Homo sapiens: one gene and its partners. The protein of the gene in region 3 purifies or fractionates together with the protein of the main gene of each other region. This does not show direct contact. Each region holds a gene or a part of one and is shown on either strand. Other genes may lie near its edges. The genes, in order: POLR3B, UFD1 and SLC13A5.

Evidence for each region.
Region 1: the proteins of SLC13A5 (region 3) and POLR3B purify together in Homo sapiens (affinity purification with mass spectrometry; one large-scale study listed by BioGRID and IntAct). This does not show direct contact.
Region 2: the proteins of SLC13A5 (region 3) and UFD1 purify together in Homo sapiens (affinity purification with mass spectrometry; one large-scale study listed by BioGRID and IntAct). This does not show direct contact.

The regions. Positions count from the first base shown.
Region 1 is NC_000012.12:106,430,748-106,434,397, reverse strand, and holds part of POLR3B (DNA-directed RNA polymerase III subunit RPC2), read right to left. Parts: intron 2,081-3,650; coding exon 1,918-2,080; intron 680-1,917; coding exon 526-679; intron 1-525. UniProt on the Homo sapiens protein: Catalytic core component of RNA polymerase III (Pol III), a DNA-dependent RNA polymerase which synthesizes small non-coding RNAs using the four ribonucleoside triphosphates as substrates.
Region 2 is NC_000022.11:19,465,570-19,469,219, reverse strand, and holds part of UFD1 (ubiquitin recognition factor in ER-associated degradation protein 1), read left to right. Parts: intron 1-1,216; coding exon 1,217-1,347; intron 1,348-3,650. UniProt on the Homo sapiens protein: Essential component of the ubiquitin-dependent proteolytic pathway which degrades ubiquitin fusion proteins.
Region 3 is NC_000017.11:6,703,344-6,706,993, forward strand, and holds part of SLC13A5 (Na(+)/citrate cotransporter), read right to left. Parts: intron 3,436-3,650; coding exon 3,299-3,435; intron 714-3,298; coding exon 535-713; intron 1-534. UniProt on the Homo sapiens protein: High-affinity sodium/citrate cotransporter that mediates the entry of citrate into cells, which is a critical participant of biochemical pathways.

The DNA of each region.
Region 1 (3,650 bases), on a different chromosome or scaffold from region 3:
ATCCTACTCCTCCTTTAAAGCTCAGTTTGTAGCAACAGACTATAGTGGGCAAAATCATGCGTCAAACGAATCCTAAGGACTTTCAAATAAAAAACAGATTCCACCACTCTTTAGCTTTCAGTAAGTTACTTAGCCTCACTGAACCTCAGTTTCCTCATTTCTTAAATGACAAGAATAATCCAACCTCATAGGGTTGAATGAAGAAGTTAAAGCCTTACACATATAGTGTCTCCATTAAAATGACAAATGGTGGCTAGCATTAACCACTACCACAGTTGATTGTTATTAGTCATTTTTTCTGCCTTTCCCGGCAGACTGAGCTCTCTGAGGGCAGACTCTGTCTCCCATTAATCTGAATCCTCGGTACCTAATATGCATATTCATGAAGTGTTTGCTCACGGAATTAAATTTATCTTCACAATGAAAGAGGTTAAAACAGTTTCAAAAATAAAAACAAGTCTATTTCTTTCAAGAGCAAATATAAAGAGATTCTTAAAAACTCTTTTTAGTAACCTGCATATATACCTGCATAGCCTTCCCCCATCAGAAGAAATATAGACACATCGATCTGTAAGATTTGTTGAGATGGAAACAAATTCATTGATATATCCTGCTCTTCTCATGAGTCGAAATGTATTCACTAGCTTTTTGTGGTCTCGAATGACACCTAAGATGTTACCTAGGCAAAAAGAAAGAACAGGTAAGACAGAAATAAAAAATAAATGCAACCTGATTTAATATATCCAACCAATAAAAATAGTAATCAGCACTAAGCAGTTATTTGAAAATACCATTATTAACACCTGCAGCCAGTCCACAAGGTTGCAGGGAAGCAACAAAGGAAGAATGCTTAAGGGCCAGTCCTTCCACATGCAGGCTGAGGAATACTGGAAAAGTCAGCTTCATTTTCCTCATCTTTCAGCACAGTGCTGGGGCATGAACTTGGGGTCCAAACAACCTGGGTTTGAACACTGGCTCCATCACTTCCACAGGCTGGCAGTAAAGGTTAAACGAGCTGATCATTTAAAGTACTGAGAATTCTGCCTAGCACCTACTAACTGCTATTATTAAACTGCTTCTTGTTGTAATCAACATTTGTGAAATGAGGAAAATGAACTTTGCTTCCCAAGGTTAGCGGGAGGATTCAAAGAGGCACTGGGTGAAAGTGCAGAGTAAAAGCTCACTCAATGTTAGCCTCTGGGATACAATGAACTAGGCAGTCAGTTAACAGCCCTGCTGAGGCTCTGACCCCTTCCTCACCAGCAGATATAAAAAAGAGTTAATGCCTCCTAGAATGAGAGGAAGGGGGAGAGGAAGAGAGAACAGACAAGTGATAAGGGATAAGCTCATGGAGCATACTAGGGAGAGAACAGGCACACAGCACCAAATCAAAAGCAGAAAGGAAGAGAGCACACTTGCTGCTAAGTCTCTGGAAGACTTCGAAGGAGACGGGAAGAGGTATATGAAAGAAATAACTGGAGTGTGAGCCAAAGGAGAGGGATCCTCTTATCACAGGCTGCTGACATATTGATTATCAGATGGCTAGACAAAGTCAATTCATTATAAGAGTTGATCTGATAATTTTTGCAGAATGACTCCAATATTTGACTTGTACTTAAAGATACCATGTTGAACCGTATTCCACTAAGGATATGCCAGCAACTGCAAAAGGGGAGAAAGCAGCCACTTTCTGCAAAGTTACCCTTTAGCTCTGATAGCTATATCCTCTCAGAACCTTGGATAACCCAGCCAACAAAGTAACTGTTTCTGTTATCATTGTATTTTCTACCTTTAAGTGAAGGTCAACCTGGGCCCAGAATTAAAGTCTATCTGTGCTTTAAATACCAGGATAATAATGGATTCCCTCCCCCTCTTCACAGACTATCTAGGACCAACATGTCTCTATAATATACCCACCATTAAGAAAGACAAGAAACACATTTGGGTAAGAGAGCTCTTCCCCACATAATAAATTCACATCTTCTACTCCCAAGTTACTGGCTAATTTAACAATGGGTCCATCTTCCATATCAGTTGTGATGTGTGTCATAAGGGCCAAGTTTTTAACCAAACCACATGCCTAAAAAACAAAAGATGGTCATTTCTAAGAATGAACATTAGTAATACAAAGTACAGTTTACATCTGAAAATAGCTCACTACTTTGCTGGCAGCAATGCAAAGCAGTACAACTTTGTAGGGGATACTGTGGTGATTCGCACAAATGCCTTTAAAAAATATATATATCCCTTAACTCAGGGGAATTTCTCTTCATAACAAGCAAGGATATAAAATAGATTTAGATACAGAAATGCTCAGCACAGTACTATTTGTAATTGTAAATGCTGACGACATCATAAATGCCCAACAAAACTGATTACATTAACAATTACTCCCAGACATTGGAACATTACAGTCATTATGATGACATTGTATAAAATAAGTAAAGGAAAACATTAATAAATGCAGCTACATAAAAATATAAAACTTCTGGCCTGAAATGAGAGACTGTATAAAATAACTGGCCAGTGCCCTTAAGTTTCTTGGTCACGAAAGGTAAATAAAGACAGACTGAAAAACTCTTTCAGATGAAAAGAGACAAGGAGACATGACAACTAAAAACAATGTGTGATTCTGGATCAGAAAAAAGACAACAGTGGGACAACTGGCAAAATTTGAATAAGATCCATAGATTATAGTATTGTTCAATGTCATGAGGCTGATAACAGTGCTATGGTTACATAAGATGTTCACAGTTGGGAATCTAGATGAAAGATTGTGGAAAATCTTTGTACCAGTTTCATCACTTTTTTGTATATCTAAAATTATTTCAAAATGAAAAGAAAAGAAATCTTTTTAAACATCTATGCAACCCGGTACAGTTCTAAAACAAAAATACCAACAAGGACAGAATATAGCAAATAGGAAAAAAATACTTAAGACAGGTGACTTGTAAGATTGTATCTTCAGGTCTTAGAACCATCTGCTGCAGTAATGTACAAAATAGCTACTTTTTTGAAGTTAGCTGAAGCAATCTCTGGGAAATGAAATGTTTCAAAGTTCAAGATATATAAATTATGCAAAATTTGACAAACTGGATAATTTTAGTGTCAATTTCCATATGGTTTAAGATAAATTAAATAGTTTCTAAAAATCGCAGCTCTATACAGACTCCTATTTTCATCTCTTCCAAATAATAAATTCCTACACTTTGGACCCTACATCTTTTACTTGTTGTAATTATTAATTCAGCATATATTCATGGGGCCTGTACTCTAACCAAGGCTCTATGTTAGGAGCTTGAGATACAATGGTGAACCTTCCTTCCTCCAGAATTTTACAATTTAGAAGGAATAGAATCAAGTGAAACTAACAATGTTAACACAAAGGAGAAAGGACCGTGACACAGGGAGTAGCGGGTGCTATAGAAGTAAACCCATGTAAACTCCCTGGCTTGATGTTTAGGCAATTGCTTGTGTTTCCAATATAAGTGAGTCAAAATCCACATTAGGTCATGGACTGTATACTCCTAATTGGCTGTGACTGAGCCTACCTAAGGACAATAAGGAGCTGCTCAAAAAGAGCCCCTCATGAGCATGAGAGGTGGTAGGTCTTTCAATCTGCCTTCACAGTCTTATCCCCTCTGTGCATG
Region 2 (3,650 bases), on a different chromosome or scaffold from region 3:
AGAATACTTCCTGTTAGAACATCACTCCTGGGGATGCCAGACCCCCGTTACCAAAGCCAGTCACCTCTGCATCCTTCTGTGCCTGCCTGTGGCATTTGGTAGAGTGACCACCCTCTATTTCTGCCCTTACTAGCCTGACAAGCAGCTGTCAGCGTGAGTGCATGGGGTCCTCTGCAAGCCTATCCATAGGGCCCACCACTCAGGCTTCACTCATGGCCTAGGCACGGCTTCCCAGGCACAGCCTCGGCCTCAGCATGCCTCTCCCTCCTCATGAGCTCCCTCTCATTTGTGACACAGCCCTCAGCCCCCTTTTCCCTTGGCTGTTAAAGTCACCTTCTCACTGCCACTCCCGATGAAACATTCTTGAAGGGATGTGATACCTGGGATTTGCTTCAGGGCATCTAATGTGGCTTGGGACTGGGTGTGAGGTAGTGCTGATCGATGGACTGAGCCACGACGTGAGCACTGTCCAACTGTCAGGGCTCGGTGCGTGGGAGCTCTCTTCTACGGCTCTTTCTACTGATGTATATGTCTGACACCCCTTTTAAGACGGTTTCAAATAAGACAAGCAAAATTTCATTGCAAGAGACATAGAGCTTCTGACCTGAGTCTGGACTCCCTGCACACCCAGTACTCATGGGCATTGTTTATCTCTTTCCGTCTCACTTCTCAGCCGTCGTCTACCTGGCTGGGTTGTTTAATAGAGACATGTGGAGGCTTTGTCAGATTTTTATAACCTCCTTAGCAGAGACCTCTGGGGTCTGTCACCATCTTGCAGCCTCAGCTGTGGTGGGCCATTCCATTGCCAGGTCAGCCTTGCCTTGTGCTGCTTTTGTCCTACCTCAGGTGCAGCCCTACTTGACGCAGGGCCTTATAATTTGCTTGTGGGACAGCTTGGAAGTACAGTGAGTGACTATTCCAGGAAAATGCTCTGCCCCTGGGAAGCCTGGAGCTAGTGAGTAATCCGGGCAGCCCTGCAGAGATGCGTTCACACTGTGAGCTATACAGCTTCAGTAGCACCCCTTTATTGGCCTTCTTCCTTCCACATCACTTGATTTTTCCCTCCTTCCTGACATAGTATCACGAATTACTTATCTTGGCTCAGGTTCCTCTTCCAAGGACCCAAGTAAGACGGGCCTGCCCAGTGTATAGGGAGCAGTGGTTGTGGAGGCTGCTTCATCTCTAGGAGTCTCATGTAGCCTCTTCTTCCTTTCAGATGATGCAGAACTTACTCTTGGAAGAAGGCGGCCTGGTCCAGGTGGAGAGCGTCAACCTTCAAGTGGCCACCTACTCCAAATTCCAACCTCAGAGCCCTGACTTCCTGGACATCACCAACCCCAAAGCCGTGTATCTTTTTCAAATAAGCGGAGTTCTTCTAGACAAAGGAGAGTGTGCTGGCGGTTGTTAAACATCATGTACTGTATTGAATCTGTGCCTGCTTTGGGGATCACACATTTGTGATTCAAGTTGTGATTTGAGAATAATGGGGTTCAGCTAGCACATCTGCGTGGCCCTGGCCAAGTGCACTGGGTGCTGTCTGGGCCACCTCTGTCACTTTCCAGACACTTCATGGAGACCACAATGAAGCCCTTCTTTCAGTTGGTCTGTGTCACCTGGCACAAAGCCAGGATGCACAGTATGTCCAGTGGAAGGAGGGAGCAGCTTATCTGCCTTCAGCTCCAGCCCCTTCTGTGGCTCCCTAGTACCTCCGCCCAGCTGTGCACTGGCCCGTCAACCTCACTGCATGCCAGCCTGAGAGCTGATTCACTCCAGGCCAATAGGTAGCAATGACTGCAGTTTCTATGTCACCAAGCAGAAAGCAAAGGTATCAGGTTCTAGTGGATTCTTTTTGTTCACCTCTGAACTTAAGCCAGGTGTATGTGTTGACAGCATCAGGAAGTAGGCAGTGCAGGTACGGGACGGTGCTGTGTGCACCAATCAAGATCTCTAGCTCCATGGCCCTGATTTTTCCTGTTACGATCATGGCATAAGAGTGGCCACTCCATTCTACTTCTTTTTTTTTATTTTTTTTTAATGCATACTTGAAAAAAAAAACAAACAGTCAAACAACACAGACAGATAGGAAGTTAAGAAAAGCTGCCTCCTTTCCCAGTAGCGCTCTCTCCGCATGTTTTCTTAGGAGCAAGGCACTGCTGGGTGTGCTCTGGATGCATATGGGCCATGTATATTCTTTGCTGCCTATGTTCTGGACACGATGGCCTTGTTGAGCCTCCTGTCCCACAGGCAGGGGGATGTCCTATGGGAAGAGCTAGTTAACTTGTCCTTCAGAGCTCTGACCTAGACATGCTTGTTTGGCTGTCAGTGACCAGGAATGGGCCATGCCCATTTTCTCAGGGTTTTTACATGTGTTGCAATGCAGACTTTTTTTTGAGACGGAGTCTCACTCTGCTGCTCAGGTTGGAGTGCAGTGGCACGGTCTCAGCTCACTGCAAACTCTGCCTCCCAGATTCAAGTGATTCTCCTGCCTCAGCCTCCTGAGTAGCTGGGATTACAGGTGTGCACCACCACACCCGGCTAATTTTTGTATTTTTAGTAGAGACGGAGTTTCACCATGTTGCCTAAGCTGGTCTCGAACTCCTGACCTCAGGTGCTCCACCTGCCTCAGCCTCCCAAAGTGCTGGGATTACGTGCATGAGCCACCGCGCCCTGCCCCAATGCAGACTTATCAGGTTGATCTCAGATGCTGTTTTGTCAGCACAATTAACTTGTTAGTGTGTGGAGAAAGGGCGTCACTTCCATCAGTTGAGAGCCTGGTGTTTTCTGGTCTGGCTGAGGTCTGGATGAAAGCAGTCTTGGCACCGAGCAGAGAAAGTGGGAAGCTGGTGCTGCAGCAGGTGCCAGAGTACGCAGAGGCCATATGGGGAGCCCGCCCTGCCTGCAGAGGCCTCGTGTTCTCAGCCTGAGGGCTCTGGCTCTGCTCCTCCAGCTGCTGCAGTGGAAGTCAGAGAAGATGCCCTGGCAGGGTCACTAGAGGAGTGGAGGGAAGGGCACTTCGTACCGTGGCACTTCATATTTGGGAGCAAAGAAAGCATCCACCACATAAGGCGCTTTTCACAAAGTTGCTCTGGTTCTGGAAAGCTGTTTGACCAAGCGAGGTGAACCTAGATAGCCTCACCCTTTCACCCTCAAGTTGGACTCACAGTGGCAGGCTCTGGAGCCACATTTCATGTGACCTTTTTATGTAAAGTCCTTCAGCAAATTGATGAGGAAGACATGGCAAAATATTCCACATGAATAGACATTTCCTTGTGTGGGCATTTGGGTTCTACAGTTTTACTGTTATAAAAAGTATTTGCTGGTTTCTTTATTTTAATTTCTATTAACTAAAGTTATCAGCTCAAAAGATAGAAACAACAGAAGTATAAATGAAAGCATCTTTGATTTTGAGGAACTTTTGAGAGGACCTATCTGACTCATTAAATCTTTTTTGTTCTTTAGTACTCCCACAGGATTTTTTAAAATCCCATGGTATAATTTGTATACAATAAAATGCACACAGTTCAGCCAGTTTGAAAATGTATACACCCATGTAATCAGAACATTTCCATGTCCCCAAAAGGTCCTTTCCTGTCAGTCCCCACCTGATCCCCTGGCCCAGAAACCTCTCAGCTACCTCCCATCCTCATAGA
Region 3 (3,650 bases):
AGGCCGTCAGCCACAGACCCTGACTCTACTGCACTGGGCTGGGGATGGTAAGGGAACACGGCAGACGGCAAGGTAGATGCTGACTCGTCTTCCCTGAGCTTCGCACCTAGCAGGGAAGCAAGCATGGGACGCCAAGCCCCAGACCTATGGGAGCAGAGAGTGGAAGGATTTGAGCTGCTCGAGGAGGTCAGAAAAGGCCTCCTTGAGGATGAGCAGGAGTAGCAAGGAGTGAGGGGCATCCCTAAGTGCTCGAAAGATGCCCAAATGAATAATCAGGTGAACACACTGATTTCTGCAACTGATGGGAACTGAGGGTGAGACTTTGTTCAAAGCTCTATTAAAGGATCTAAGTTGTGTGCAATAATCCCCTCCTAAAACTTAGGACAACAGTATTTTCTATTTTTTTTTCTCTATGCGTGTTTAAAGGAGGGCTCCGGGAAGCAGACAGGGAGAAGGAGGTGGCCAAAGCATTTGCCAGCAGAGGGAGGGGAAGGCTGCTGTTGTGGCCTGGCAGTGCCCTGGCCAGGGGCTCACCTGGCAGCTCCTTGGCCTTGCCCTTGTCCACCAGCTCCAGGCCGGCCTCGGTGGCTGCGCTTGTGGCTTCCATCTGCTGCAATATGGCCTCCACGATGGGCACCATCATGGCCGTGGTTGCCGTGTTACTGATCCACATGGACAGGAGGGCTGTGACGCCCATGAAGCCCAGCATCAGCCTGCAGAGGAGGGGCAGGGAGGAAAGCCAGAGAATCCCCACCCCACCCCCGTACTCCCTGGGAAGCAACTGGGGACTGGGTCCACCCCTGCAGGGATGCACAGGTGTTGAGGCCAATTCAAGATCAGATATTGGAATAGGGATGACGGTTTTAGAGCCTCCCCTCCCTCCCTCCTTCCCTTCTTTGCTTCCTCCATTCCTCTCTCCCTCCTGCCTCTCCCACACCCATGACTGATGTCTACTCTGCTTGCTTCTGGGGTTACCAAGAGGCCTCAGATCCAGTCGTGGTTCTAAGGAGCACCCCTGCCCCACCATCTAGCAGGGGAAGCCCAGGCATCCAGATGGTGCCAACTCAATATGAGCTTGCCCTAGGGTGTGCTGGAATACCCCTATGTGCAGGCAGCCCCAGCTTCCCACTTCTGGCTAGGAAATTCCCACCCACCCCCAAACTCTGTTGCACCTCTCAGAAGTTCAGAAGGGCTAAGCAGAGTAGGGGTAGGGTGAGCTGGGGAGGGAGCTTGGGAAAGTGTGACTATTCTCCCGGCTGCCACTCCAACCCTGCCATCTCCCCTCCGCCCCGCACATACACTTTGACCCCTCCATGCTGCAGTGGAGCTATCACACAAACAGTATTCAGAAGAAACACTCCCTTTGCTTGTAACCCCTGCTCCCTTCTCTGCTGTCTATCAGGAAGACTCCTCATGGTCCTTCAGAGCCTGCTCAAACAACATCCCTCCTCTGGGACCACGCTCTCAGTGTGTGCACCAGGTGGGGCTGGCCTGACCCTTCTCAATCCTTCCCCCTACTCTAATCATCGCTGTGCTGGGTTCAAAGCACCTGTTTCCATGTCTGCTCTCTCCTTGGGCTGTGAGCAGGGCAGGGCCTGACTCTGCTCTGTGGCTCTACATGCCCCAGCTGTCCAAGGCTAGGGACAGAAGGAGCTCAGCTACTCTCAGTCTGTGGGCCTCGCTGCAGCCAGGCTCCTCCTCAGGGCTCCTAATTCACCTGGGGGTAGGAGCAGGGGCAGGGGTAGGAGCCTGAAGAAGGGACCTAGGAGCTGTTCTGCACCAGGGCCCAAGCTGCTGTCCACACAGGCAGACATTATGGACCCAAAAAAAAACAAAGCCCGGGACCCAGGCTAGGAGGAGGGGGAGAGTTTGCATGAATGGAGTTGTCTGAGAAGAACCAAGGCTTCTACATGATATCTCAAGGCACCAAGGGTGCCTCACATACAGGTGACTCCCAGGACAGGCAGTGCCTTGGACAACCGGAGACCATACTCAGAGGAGCAAGGTGGCAGGAAGGATACAGAAGCATGTGTGAACTTGGGTTTGGAAGTGGAAGCTCTCCAGCATGCTGCAGAATGAAACCCACTGGAGTGGCCTCCCACCCAAGCTGGCCACTCAAGGGAGCCAAGCAGAAGAATTCTGAGGGCCCTGAGGTCCACTTTCCTGGGGTCTCTCATTTCTAGAAAATATGATGGCTTTTGATTTGATGCTAAAGCAATTACTGGAAGGAATCAATGCCAGGATGTGTAACAGATCAGAGAGCCACAAAGTCCCCTGCTCAGGGGAATCTGAGGCACCAAGGGAGCCCCGGGCATGGGTTGCCTGCAGGGCAGGCTAGCGTCTGTGTGTGCTCAGGGTCTAGCACAGCCCCTGACACAGGGGCGCCTCAGGAGGAATTTACCGTAAACTGACCAGCAGCTGACTCCTGATGGCTGGGCCAAGGACGTGCCATCATTGAGGGGACACATTGTCTCAAAAGGAAGATATGCCCTGAGTTTCTGATTAGAGAGGACACAGGCCTTATCAGAGAAGCTGGGTCCAATCCCCGTGTGTCCATGAGCAAATCACTTTATCCCTCTCTGCCTCCAATCCCTCATCCACAGAATGTGGGCAGTAAGAATACTCAGCTCTCAGAGTTGTGGTAAGAATTAAATGAGGCAATTCATAAGCTCCTGGTATCATGCCTGGGGCCTTGTAGACACTCAATATACCCATTATGATCATGATTGATTATGGTTATGATTATGATTATATTGACTCCATGGCTTAGCTGGAAATGGCTAGCTAGATTGGCAGGAGAGATCCTGGAAATGGAGAGAGAAGCTGGGGTACTGAGTGATATCGGGGAAGATAAGAAGCTTCTTTGCAGTGGGAATAGATGCTCCAGCTTGGAGAGAGGACCTTTCTGCTTCCCCATGAGCTGGGTAGTTGAGCCACTTCTGGCCTGCTTCCCTTATCCTATCAGACACAGCTTGATCCAGCCTCTATCCAATTTGTTCCCGGTGGAACCCTGCAGCTAGCTGCCTCCCCCAGAAAGCCTTCCAAGCCTGCAAGGACTCTTGCTGACCCACCTCCTCTGGATTCGAGGACCCTTACTTACTGCTGCTCACCATGTGCCACCACCACGCATGCATCTGGTCTCTCCCACTAAAGCTATAACGCACCCCACCCAGCCAAGTCCAGGTAAGCCCATGGCCAGCCCTCACCAGTGGATGGCCTGGTCTGTGCCATCCTCCACCCCCTTCCAGCCCTGGGGCTCATGCAGAGCCACGTGGCAAGAGAGAGAAGGCGTAATTACCGTGCAGGCTTGGCCCCCACCCAGAGGAGCGTGCGCAGGGCGATCCTCTTGTGCAGGTTCCAGCGCTCCACAGCCACGGCCACGATGAGGCCGCCCAGGAACAGCATGTTGGTGTCCTTCATGTACTGGACACACACCTGGAGCGTGGCACGAAGGCCTCATCAGGACTGTCCCTTGCCACACACTAGAGCCACCCAGTCCCCAGATGCTGACTTCAGGGACAGCTTGGAGTGGGGATGCAGGCTCGAGTGGTGTCTCCCTGCCAGGGAGAATCCACAAATGAGGGTTTTCCGGTCACCCCCAGGCCTGTGCGACTCACAGTGGGGACTAGAGAAAGAGAGAAGGGGAGAAC